3 linked regions of the Homo sapiens genome follow. The protein of the gene in region 1 interacts with the protein of each later gene in a pairwise test. Each region holds a gene or a part of one and is shown in the gene's direction. Other genes may lie near its edges. The genes, in order: SPNS3, STRIT1 and PLP1.

Region 1 (3,752 bases):
AGAATATTTTTTTTTTTTCGAGACAGAGTTTTGCTCTTGTTGCCCAGGCTGGAGTGTAATGGCGTGATCTTGGCTCACCACAACCTGTGCCTCCCGGGTTCAAGCAATTCTCCTGCCTCAGCCTCCCGAGTAGCTGAGATTACAGGCACCTGCCACCATGCCTAGTTAGTTTTGTATTTTTAGTAGAGACGGGGTTTCTCCACATTGGTCAGGCTGATCTTGAACTCCCGACCTCAGGTGATCCACCTGCCTCGGCCTCCCAAAGTGCTGGGATAACAAGCGTGAGCCACCACGCCTAGCTCCCTCAGTCTTTCTTAGTCTTTCATGACTCTGACATTTTTCAATATACAGTCCCTTTAAAGAAATAGTGTTTCTCAATTTGGGCTTGTCTGATGTTTTTTCATTTTAAAAATTAAAAAAAAAATTTTTTTTTTTGAGTTGGGGTCTTGCTTTGTCACCCAGCCTGGAGTGCAGTGGCACGAACATGGCTCACTGCAGCCTCGACTTCCCAGGCTAAGGCGATCCTTCCTACCTCAGCCTCCCAAGTAGCTGGGACTGTGGACGCACACCACTACACCCGGCTATTTTTTTTTAAAATTTTTTATTTTTTTGGTATTTTTGTAGCAATGGGGTTTCACCATGTTGCCCAGGCTGGTCACAAACTTCTGGGCTTGGATGATCCTCCTGTCTTGGCCTCCCAGTGTTAGGATTACAGGTGCGAGCCACCGCGTCTGGCTGATGTCTTCTCATGATGAGATTCCGGTTGTGCCTTCCTGGCTGGAATGCCACATAGATGATGCTGTGACCTGCGAAGACCTTCACATCTGGAGGCACACGACACCCTCCTGCCTCTCACAGGTGATTTATTTTAACCCCTTGGTCAAGATGTCTGATTCCTCTACTGTATAGTTACTCTTTTTCCTTTTGTTACTAATAAGCAATCTATCAAGAGATGCTTCGTGACCGTGCTGACACCCTCCCCCCTCACTGAAGTCTTCCCCCCAGATTTAGCCCCCACTGATGAGTTTTGCACACAGGCTGTCTTCTTGTAGGCAGCCCCCTCTGCTACCTTTGTTTTTCCGGGAAGGACCTTAGATCCTGGGTAGGTGCTCATCCTGCCTGGCAGTCGAGTGCAATGCTGCTGTCCTGGCCAATGCCCAGCCTTCCTCATTTGCCCCGGCTTCAAGGCATTGGTTCACAGTCCCGTACGGGCAGCTAGACCATCTCACAGCAAGCAGCACTCTGGGAGGCTCATCTCATTTCCTGCCCTGGAAGCTTCCCTTCCTCACTGCAGCCACTGAAGCTGCAGGCTAGATCAAGGGGACCACAGAGTTGTCCAGTCCCCAGGGTGGGGGTGCCAGGAGCCCTTGTCCTCCGTAGCAGGTCTCAGAGGCTGACGATGGGGAAATCGCACTGGTGAAGCTGCCGTGGGGTCAGGAGGAACCTGCGATAAGACGCCCAACAGTTAGGGCAGGTGCTTTGAGGTTTGGAGCCTGGGACCCCACAGGAAGTGACTTCGTGCTGAGCTAATGTTGCTTCATCCTGGCGCCAGTCTCAGGCCAAGAGCTGCAGGCTGGCATGGCTGGGGGGATGTCAGCGGAGTGCCCTGAGCCTGGGCCAGGAGGTCTGCAGGGCCAGTCCCCAGGGCCAGGCAGGCAGTGTCCCCCTCCCATCACGCCCACCTCCTGGAGCCTGCCCCCGTGGAGGGCCTACGTGGCTGCCGCCGTCCTCTGCTACATCAACCTCCTGAATTACATGAACTGGTTCATCATTGCAGGTGAGGAGGGGATGGCTACCCTGGGCAGTACCTGCTGCTGTGCCCACCAGCCAGGGGCTGCAGATCCATGGTGGCCTTCCAGCCATCACCCATCTTTCTGCTCCTGGGCCCATCTCTGGTGTTCTCACCTCTAGAGGTGGTTTTCAGCTGTGCTCGAATCGGGGAGGACCAACTGATGTTCCCAATCCAGCCTCAACTAAGAAGGGACACAGGCTGGGCATGGTGGCTCCCGCTTGTAATTCCAGCACTTTGGGAGGCTGAGGCAGGAAGATTGCTTGAGCCCAGGAGTTTGAGACCAACCTGGACAACATAGTGAGACTCTGTCTCTATTTATTTATTTTTTTTTTTGAGACAGAGTCTCGCTCTGTCGCCCAGGCTGGAGTGTAGTGGCGCAATCTCAGCTCACTGCAACCTCTGTCTCCCAGGTTCAAGTGATTCTCCTGCCTCAGCCTCCCGAGTAGCTGGGATTACAGGCGTGCACCACCACATCCGGCTAATTTTTGTATTTTGAGTAGAGGAGGAGTAGGGACGGGGTTTTACCATGCTAGTCAGGCTGGTCTCGAACTCCTGACCTCAGGTGATCCACCCGCCTCGGCCTCCCAAAGTGCTGGGATTACAGGCATGAGCCACCGTGCCCGGCCTTTTTTTTTTTTCTTGAGACAGAGTCTCAATCTGTTGCCCAGGCTGGAGTGCAGTGGCGCGATCTCGGCTCACTGCAACTTCTGCCTCCCAGGTTCAAGCGATTCCTATCTCAGCCTCCCGAGTAGCTGGGACTACAGGCGCATACCACCATGCCAGGCTAGTTTTTGTATTTTTAGTAGAGACGGGGTTTTGCCGTGTATGCCAGGCTGTCTCGAACTCCAGACCTCAGGTGATCCGCCTGCCTCGGCCTCCCAAAGTGTTGGGATTATAGGCATGAGCCCCTGCGCCCAGCCGAAACTCTGTCTCTATTTAAAAAATTAAAAATATTTTAGGGCTGGGTGCGGTGGCTCAGGCCTGTAATCCCAGCACTGTGGGAGGCCAAGGTGGGCGGATCACTTGAAGTGAGGACTTTGTGACCAGCCTGGGCAACATGGTGAAACCCCGTCTCTACTAAAACTACAAAAATTAGCCGAGCATGGTAGCGGGCACCTGTAATCTCAGCTACTGGGGAGGCTGAGGCAGAGAATTGCTTGAACCTGGGAGGTGGATGTTGCAGTGAGCCGAGATCCCACCATTGAGCCAAGATCCCACCATTGCACTCCAGTCTGGGCGACAGAGCAAGGCTCTGTCTCAAAAAAAAAAAAATAAAAAATAAAAAATAAATAAATAAATAAATATTTTTTAAAAATTAAGGGAGGGCACAGTGGGGGTGGGGCCAGAGACATAATGAGGGGTGGGTGGGTGAGGACAGCAGGCAGGACTTCCAGGCAGAGGCCCCCAGGTTCTAGGTGGAGGACAGGGTAGCCTGGGCCAGACAAGAATAGCTCCTGCTGGCTGTGTTTCTAGGACAACAGGCTGCTCGCAAACCTCACACGTCCTGCCTTCCTTCTTGCAGGCTTCAGGGCTCAACCTGCTCTGTCTTCTGTCACTCATTCACTAACTCACTCACTCATTCATTCATTCAAGACTGATCAGGGGCCAGGCGTGGTGGCTCACGCCTGTAATCCCAGCTACTCGGGAGGCTGAGGCAGGACAGTCGCTTGAACCCGGGAGGCGGAGGTTGCGGTGAGCTGAGATCGTGCCACTGCACTCCAGCCTGGGCGACAGAGCGAGACTCCGTCTCAAACAAAGACAACAACAATAACAACAGCTGATTGAGGCTCCACTTGCTCTTCTCTTCTTGTCATTCATTCATTCAAGACCGGCTGAGCACTAACTGTGGGCAGGACCCCCTGCTGGCTGCTGTGGACCCAGGGAGGAAATCGGACTTGGAGTTCCTGAACTCAGGAATGACCATCTCATGGGGCAGAGATAGAGGCTGGTTGATGGCAGT
Region 2 (3,752 bases), on another chromosome or scaffold:
AAATGAGTATTTAAAATGTAGAAACCTTTTCATATGTTTCAGGCAAATTATTTTATTTTATTATGTATGTTTGTGCTCTTTGTGGGTACCACACTGTTTGTTTTAAATATCATTTTTTTCCTTAAGATAATTAGTGTTCATTTGAACTTACTGAATTAACATTTTTTATATTTAAATGAGATCAATAACATTTTTATTTCTTCTCTCTCTTTTGGCCTCAGTTAACCTTTGTTTAACGTATTATTATTTAATATTGAAAAAAATACCCAACTTTGCCAGGTAAGCAAGGGATTTTGTTGCATAAACAATACGTAGTTTTTCTGCTTACCTGACATAGCCAGACATTTTTTCAATATTAAATAATATATTGAGAGAGAGACTGAGGAGAGAGATGACAACTTGACATAAATGATATAAATGTGCCAGATTCTTGGCTGCACACTCTAATCTATAGGTACATTATTTGAGGTAGAAAGTCAAATGTTCTTCTTGCCTGTGAGAGTGGGAGGATTCTGAATTCATATAATAGCAAGGAGTTCAGTGTCACTGAAGTTATCACTGCAAATGGAAGAGTAGAGAAATAAGGGTTTTTAGGTGTCTAAACAAAGAGTTGGGATTTTTATTGTCTAGGAGATGAAGAACTATTGGTGGATTTTTGAGCAGTGATGGAACATGGTCATTTGCAAGGCAATATCACTCTTGGAACTCTGTGGAGATAAATTTGATCAGGCCAGACCTGCCTTTACAGGTCTTAATCTTATGTCAAATTTTTTTTGGGAAGATGCTCACAGGGTCACTCTGCAAAACTTTTCCAGCCAGATCCCCAATTTAAAGTTATTCCAATGAGAATATAGAGAATAGTCTAGGTCAGTTACATAAACCAGTTTGGACTTTGAAAAATGAAATGTCCTATTTTTATACATTGCTAATAAAAACAACAAGCTTATGACTGCTTCCTAAAAATTCTAGGCGACGTCTGTATTGTTTTAGTTTCTAGTACATTTATATTAACACTTTTTGTTTTAGAATAGTTCAAAGAAAGGGGCACCATTTCATTTTATGTTTTCCACCTGTAAAGTAATAAAGAACTGTCTACATTTCATACAGACTTTCATTTCATCTTTATGCGACTCCCATGAGTAGGTATTATTATCCTCATTTTAAAACTAAAGAAGCTGATTCCCAGGTTAAGCAACTTGGCTTTCATTACAGAAAGAGCTGGAATTTGAACCCAAGTCTCTCCAACATCAAAATCCTTTCTTTCTAATATATCACCCTTCTCCTTGATAGCACTTGTATAGGTGGAATGTTGTTTTTCCTCTGTACACCTTCTTTATAGAACATTTTCTTCATGTTACCTAAAGGCATGGTGCAAATTAAAAACCTGCGAATATCTGCATTAGGATAATTCAGCTTACCTAATTGTTTAGGTCATGTAGCCCCTCGTTTCCTCCATAATAATAGAATAAAGAGCCAGAGGAGTTCTGCTTTCCCATGACTTACATCACTCTGCAGACAATTGGCAGCCAGGAGACGGGCAGCTGCCGCAATCTTCAGATTTCTCTCTATTTAAAGTTCAAAGAGACGCTGGATAACAAAAGAAAGAGGTAAGCGTGGCCTGACCTAGCCACCCACCAACAGGAATAATGGCTGAAAAAGGTAAGATTTAAGGCATAGGATTCTCTTGGCAAAAAAAAAAAAAAGGCTTCTTGACTTTGGTTCATTTATGTTTCTTGGTGTTTCCCAGTCACTCTAAAAAATGTGATATCTATGCTAAATGACCATTAACCATATATGTTAGTGTGGCTGCAAAAATGCATTAATTATGTAATCTATGGATCAGGTCTATAGGTTATGAATAATTTTAAAATGATCAACAAAGGAAAAGAGCTTAATTTTGTTAATACTTATTTTGAAAGGTGAGTTAGAAATCAGTTCTCCTGATTTCAATTCTGAGCCAGAATTGAAGACAGTTAAGTTCTGTGTCAGACCTGCTAGTAAATGGCTATGTGAGTTTGCAGAAGTCCCTATACCTCTCTGAGTCTGTTTTCTGACAGTAAAATGAGAATATTGGGCTCAGGCATCTATTCCACACCTAAAATTTTTGTTCCACATCTAACTTTTTTCTGGTTTTTAAACATTTTTTTGTATTTATATTTTATAGTTATATAAAATAATTGATTCCAATTTGTCAAAAAGTTGAATATATACTGTATCTAAGAAATGGTTTTTAAATATTAAACAGGAATTTTTGCTTTGAATCTTGACAATGACCTTGTGAAATATGCATATCATCATCATCCCCATTTTATAGATAAGAAAATGGAGACACAGCAGTTTAGTAACTTGTTCATGATCGCTAAAGAGTGGTGGCACCAGGTGTTTAACCTGGACAGTCTTTTCCAGAGCACAGTGTCCTCAAGAACACTTCCAGCTGTAACTACTTTGATATGCTCAGAACTGGACAAGAGAGAAGCATTTTAGAATTACACTTCATGTTTAAGAGATGTTTTGTTCTTATTTGTGCTAGTAATGTAAGTGACATATGCAAAGTATGTTGTGCTCTTACGTATTTCTACTTCCAAACAATTCCACAGGTATTAGTAAAGTTGAAAACATTAGTGTTAAAAAAACAATGGAATGTATACTTTGGGTGTTAAAATGCACAGTTAGTGCTACTGGTACTATTTTACAAGGAAAGTAAATAATGAGATACTTTTAGGGCTTTGTGATATGTAAATTTTATTAAAATATGCATGTATAAAATATAAATGCACAATTAAAGGGTTAATATTAATTTTCAAATTCTTTGAAATTGGGAAAAATATAAAGCCACATACCTAGACAGTTCAAAAAAATTACTGCTATGTACTTCCATTGTAATGGTACCTTAATTCATAAAAAGGCTTTCGTCCAAATGAGAGTAAAGGGCAACTCATGTTGTTTGCTTTATCCTTAAGCAATACCACATGTCAAGTAAAGAGAAGAGTTTTCCATTTAGTGCTTAATGCCTTATACAAGGTCACAGTGAGATGGAGAAACAAGAAAAGCATGTTGAATTTTGTCAGTTAAGAGAGACTCTAGCATTCTTGGAAAAATTGATTTAAAGTATTAAAATTTATTTCAACTTCAGAAAGTTTGCTTTTATAAAAGTGTCTTCTAATTTTAAATGTGTCTCATCTCCTGATGATTTTATTTTAATAGCATTTTTAAAAATTTCACATTTTAAAGTGATGGAAATTGTAATAGGAGTATAATTGCTAAGAATATGCATTCTCTCTTTTAACTAATGGCATAAGATCTAATTATGCTTTGCAGTTAAGAATATATCTGAGTCCTTAACACAGGGACATTAATTCCATAGAATGTTTTTCTGCGCTCTTTCTAAATCTTTTTGTGTGATGTAGGTGTGGATTTCTGTGTGTATGCCTGTGTATGTTTGCTTGAAAGAACAAGAGTTACATGCAGTGCATACTTTAAAAAAGATACTTGTATAAATTGCTTTTTACAGGTAAGAGTACAAATAGGAGGCACAGAAGGAATCATATATAACAAACGCCATTTATGTGTGTGTTGGATTATTACTGCCCATTGATTCAGGTTCAGTGCTGGTTGTTATACTGAACAATTTTTAAACAATAGAAATTCTTTTCTGTAGTCAAGAATGGTTACATAATGTATGATACTTTCCTTTTCCCTGTGATATTTAAAATTACATTCAGCTATTGAGGCCAAGGACAGTTCTCAATACC
Region 3 (3,652 bases), on another chromosome or scaffold:
TGGTATACATGTGTGTATGTGCACATTTGTACACATGCATGCATGTGCGTGTGCACACACACAGACACACCCATGGGCCAGCTCTGAAAAGACACTCTTCCCAAGCACGTTTGCAAAGTTCATGCTGAGTAAACTCAGCCTCCACTCACAGCAGCACAGCTACAGATTGCTTCTTATAGAGGCCAAGTTTCCTGGCAGCAATGCTTTAGTTCTTGGAAAAGGAAGTTCTGCTCCAAATGTTAGCTGCTTACTTTGTTTGGCTTGGGCTTCTGAGGCTCATCTTTGGTGTGACACTCTTTGAAGGCCAAGAAAGGGCTGTCATTTCAGGGGATGGTGGGTAATAGGACTCACTCCTTTTGTGTCTCTGAGAACAGAGGCAAATGCCTCTACCTCGATTTTCCCATGACAGAGATAATTTGATCTTTCCAAATCTGTTCACACTGATGCAATTCAGCCATGTAAATCACTAGGTATTCATGCTCTCTGGGCTAAAAACAAACTGTAACTAATGTTAACAGAATCAGGAAAAGGAGTCCCCTTTCCCTGGTACCCTATAGAAAAGTGAGTGTGGCTTGGAGAAATGCTTGAATACAAAAATCCAAGCCTAAGTAATTAATACAATTTATTTTTATTGTACAAGCTGTCACAACCTGCTTATTCAAAAATAGCAGCTTCCCAGTACATTTGCTGAGTATTTGTGTGTGTGCATGTGTATACTGTGTTTATAGATATATAAAATCAGTGGGTATATATACATATATTTATATATATACATACATATGAATTAAGACATTTTTTCTGAAGAGCTTAACATTCTCATTTCTTCTACATTTTAGGGATCTGGCCGAGAGGCCAGAGGAAGCCATTCTTTTCCTCATCTAGTCAGTCATCTACTTGGCATTTGCTAAGGTTCACTCCATATGACATCTTAGAGCATGGGACTAGTACTTGGAACACAGCTGCTTTCAGAGCCTGTGACTTCTTGTGTGCCTCTCCTGTTTCTCAGCAACACTGGCATAGGGCCTGGGATACCAGGTCTGGGGATCTCAGGGACTCTTAGCACTTTAAGACACATGTGTTCCCAGGCCCTGGTGTGTTCCTCTAGTGCCAGAAAGATGTTTCATGCTTTGCTGACTTTGTATAAAGTCTGTTTGTAGCTGTTTTGACAGAATCTCAGCGTATAACTGAGGGTGGGGACATTAGCCAAGCTGCATTATAGGAGGACAAAACTGCCATACAAAGTGTCCAAAATCATTAAGCCTGCATTTTTATTATTGGGAGTAATATCAAACCTCCTATTTTCCAATTTTCATTTCTTGTCCTGTGCTAGCTCCATCCTGTTTGGACTGCTCCTCCCATATGTAAACTAAGAAGAATCAAGCATTCTTTGCAACAAATACACACGATGCTCAAAAATGTCCAGGAGCATCCAATTTCCAAAGTTTCCTCCACCTGGAATGCTCTTCATGCTAAAATCCTGTCTGACAATACCAGCATCTCTGGCCTGCACTCATCCCTTCCTGGAACTCCAAGTGCATTTACCCTCTGTTACCACTTACTTGGCTGCCTGAATTGTTAGTTGAAAATATTAGGTCTACTTAGCTAATTCTTCCTCAGGAAATTAAAGACTCCCATATGGCAGAGTCTGTGTCTTTTCTCTCTTCATATCCCGTATAACACCCAGCATAATGCTGGGCATATAGTGAGTATTCCATAAATAGTTGATGAATGACTAAAATAAGCAAGCAAACAAACAGACTAGAACAATAAGAAAGAAGGGACTGATTTCATAATCTCTCTGGCTTGCTATTTGAATTGCTGAATTATTATTATTTATTAAATATTTTTTAAATTCTGGCAATAAAAGGTAAGGATTTATTTTCTTTCTTTCTTTTTTTTTTTCTTGAGACAGAGTCTCGCTCTTACTGCCCAGGCTGGAGTACAATGGCGCAATCTTGGCTCACGGCAACCTCCGCCTCCTCCTGGGTTTAACAGATTCTCCTGTCTCAGCCTCCTGAGTAGCTGGGATTACAGGCATACGCCCATGCCCGGCTAATTTTTGTATTTTTAGTAGAGACGGGGTTTTGCCATGTTGGCCAGGCTGGTCTTGAACTCCTGACCTCATGTGATCCACCTGCCTCAGCCTCCCAAAGTGCTGGGATTACAGGCATGAGCCACCGTGCCCGGCCAAAGATTTATTTTCAAGAATGAAACAAAGTAAGGATTCTGGGTCAATCTCACATGCTGAAAGCCAAAACCTCTAGCCGCTCCTGCTTTTTGACTTCGGAGTGCCCACTATCTCCGAGCCTGTGAGCACAGGGCCTGGCAGAGGGGTTTGAGTGGCATGAGCTACCTACTGGATGTGCCTGACTGTTTCCCCTTCTTCTTCCCCAGGCTTGTTAGAGTGCTGTGCAAGATGTCTGGTAGGGGCCCCCTTTGCTTCCCTGGTGGCCACTGGATTGTGTTTCTTTGGGGTGGCACTGTTCTGTGGCTGTGGACATGAAGCCCTCACTGGCACAGAAAAGCTAATTGAGACCTATTTCTCCAAAAACTACCAAGACTATGAGTATCTCATCAATGTGTAAGTACCTGCCCTCCCACACAGACCCATCTTTTTTTTCCCTCTCTCCATCCTGGAGATAGAGAACTCTTCAGTACCTTAGTAACTAGCAGGGGACTGGGGTGGAGCCAGACCGGATTCCCGAGTCTTCCCTCTGTGCAGATCTCTCCTGCTCCACATTCGAAGCCCATTCAGAAAGGAGGGGTCTGCCTGCCTGCCTGTCAGCCCCTCCCACCCCCGCCCCCTTGTTTTCTTACACGTGTTCTGACTTCTGCTAGGTGTGGTTCATATTGCCCAAGTTGGAGCCTCCAGCGTAGTAGGTATGGAGAAGCCAAGGGAGGCACTAAGCCTCTCCTGTTCCTAGAACAAGTTAGGCTCCTGTTCCTTCACCCACCTTTCTTCTTGTCTAGCTCCCTACTCCTGTGAGTTAGCATGTCTGAAGGGTGGGGCAGGGAGAGTAGGTCCCTGGTTCTCCAGGTCCCAGGGTAAGCAAGGTGTGGCGGGAGGGGCATATGTTTCTGGTCACATACACCCTGTCTTCACTTATTTCAACAAAGATAAGGTGAAAGCATGCAGGAGGAACCTGGTGATTCCTCTAGAAAATCCCTAGCCTTGTTAAGGTGCTCGCTCTGGTGTATACCTCACTTATGTCGGGAAAGAAGCCAGGTCTTCAATTAATAAGATTCCCTGGTCTCGTTTGTCTACCTGTTAATGCAGGATCCATGCCTTCCAGTATGTCATCTATGGAACTGCCTCTTTCTTCTTCCTTTATGGGGCCCTCCTGCTGGCTGAGGGCTTCTACACCACCGGCGCAGTCAGGCAGATCTTTGGCGACTACAAGACCACCATCTGCGGCAAGGGCCTGAGCGCAACGGTAACAGGGGGCCAGAAGGGGAGGGGTTCCAGAGGCCAACATCAAGCTCATTCTTTGGAGCGGGTGTGTCATTGTTTGGGAAAATGGCTAGGACATCCCGACAAGGTGATCATCCTCAGGATTTTGTGGCAATAACAAGGGGTGGGGGAAAATTGGGCGCGAGTCTGTGGCCTCGTCCCCACCCAAGGCTGGGTCCTCTCTAGGGGCCTGGCATTTGA

The links.
Region 2: the proteins of SPNS3 (region 1) and STRIT1 interact in binary tests that used the Homo sapiens proteins (3 or more experiments, as listed by UniProt).
Region 3: the proteins of SPNS3 (region 1) and PLP1 interact in binary tests that used the Homo sapiens proteins (3 or more experiments, as listed by UniProt).

The regions. Positions count from the first base shown.
Region 1 is NC_000017.11:4,432,390-4,436,141, forward strand, and holds the start of SPNS3 (protein spinster homolog 3), read left to right. Parts: upstream 1-1,550; 5' UTR 1,551-1,578; coding exon 1,579-1,777; intron 1,778-3,752. UniProt on the Homo sapiens protein: Sphingolipid transporter.
Region 2 is NC_000003.12:155,291,527-155,295,278, reverse strand, and holds the start of STRIT1 (sarcoplasmic/endoplasmic reticulum calcium ATPase regulator DWORF), read left to right. Parts: upstream 1-1,595; 5' UTR 1,596-1,646; coding exon 1,647-1,659; intron 1,660-3,752.
Region 3 is NC_000023.11:103,783,188-103,786,839, forward strand, and holds part of PLP1 (myelin proteolipid protein), read left to right. Parts: intron 1-2,394; coding exon 2,395-2,581; intron 2,582-3,277; coding exon 3,278-3,539; intron 3,540-3,652.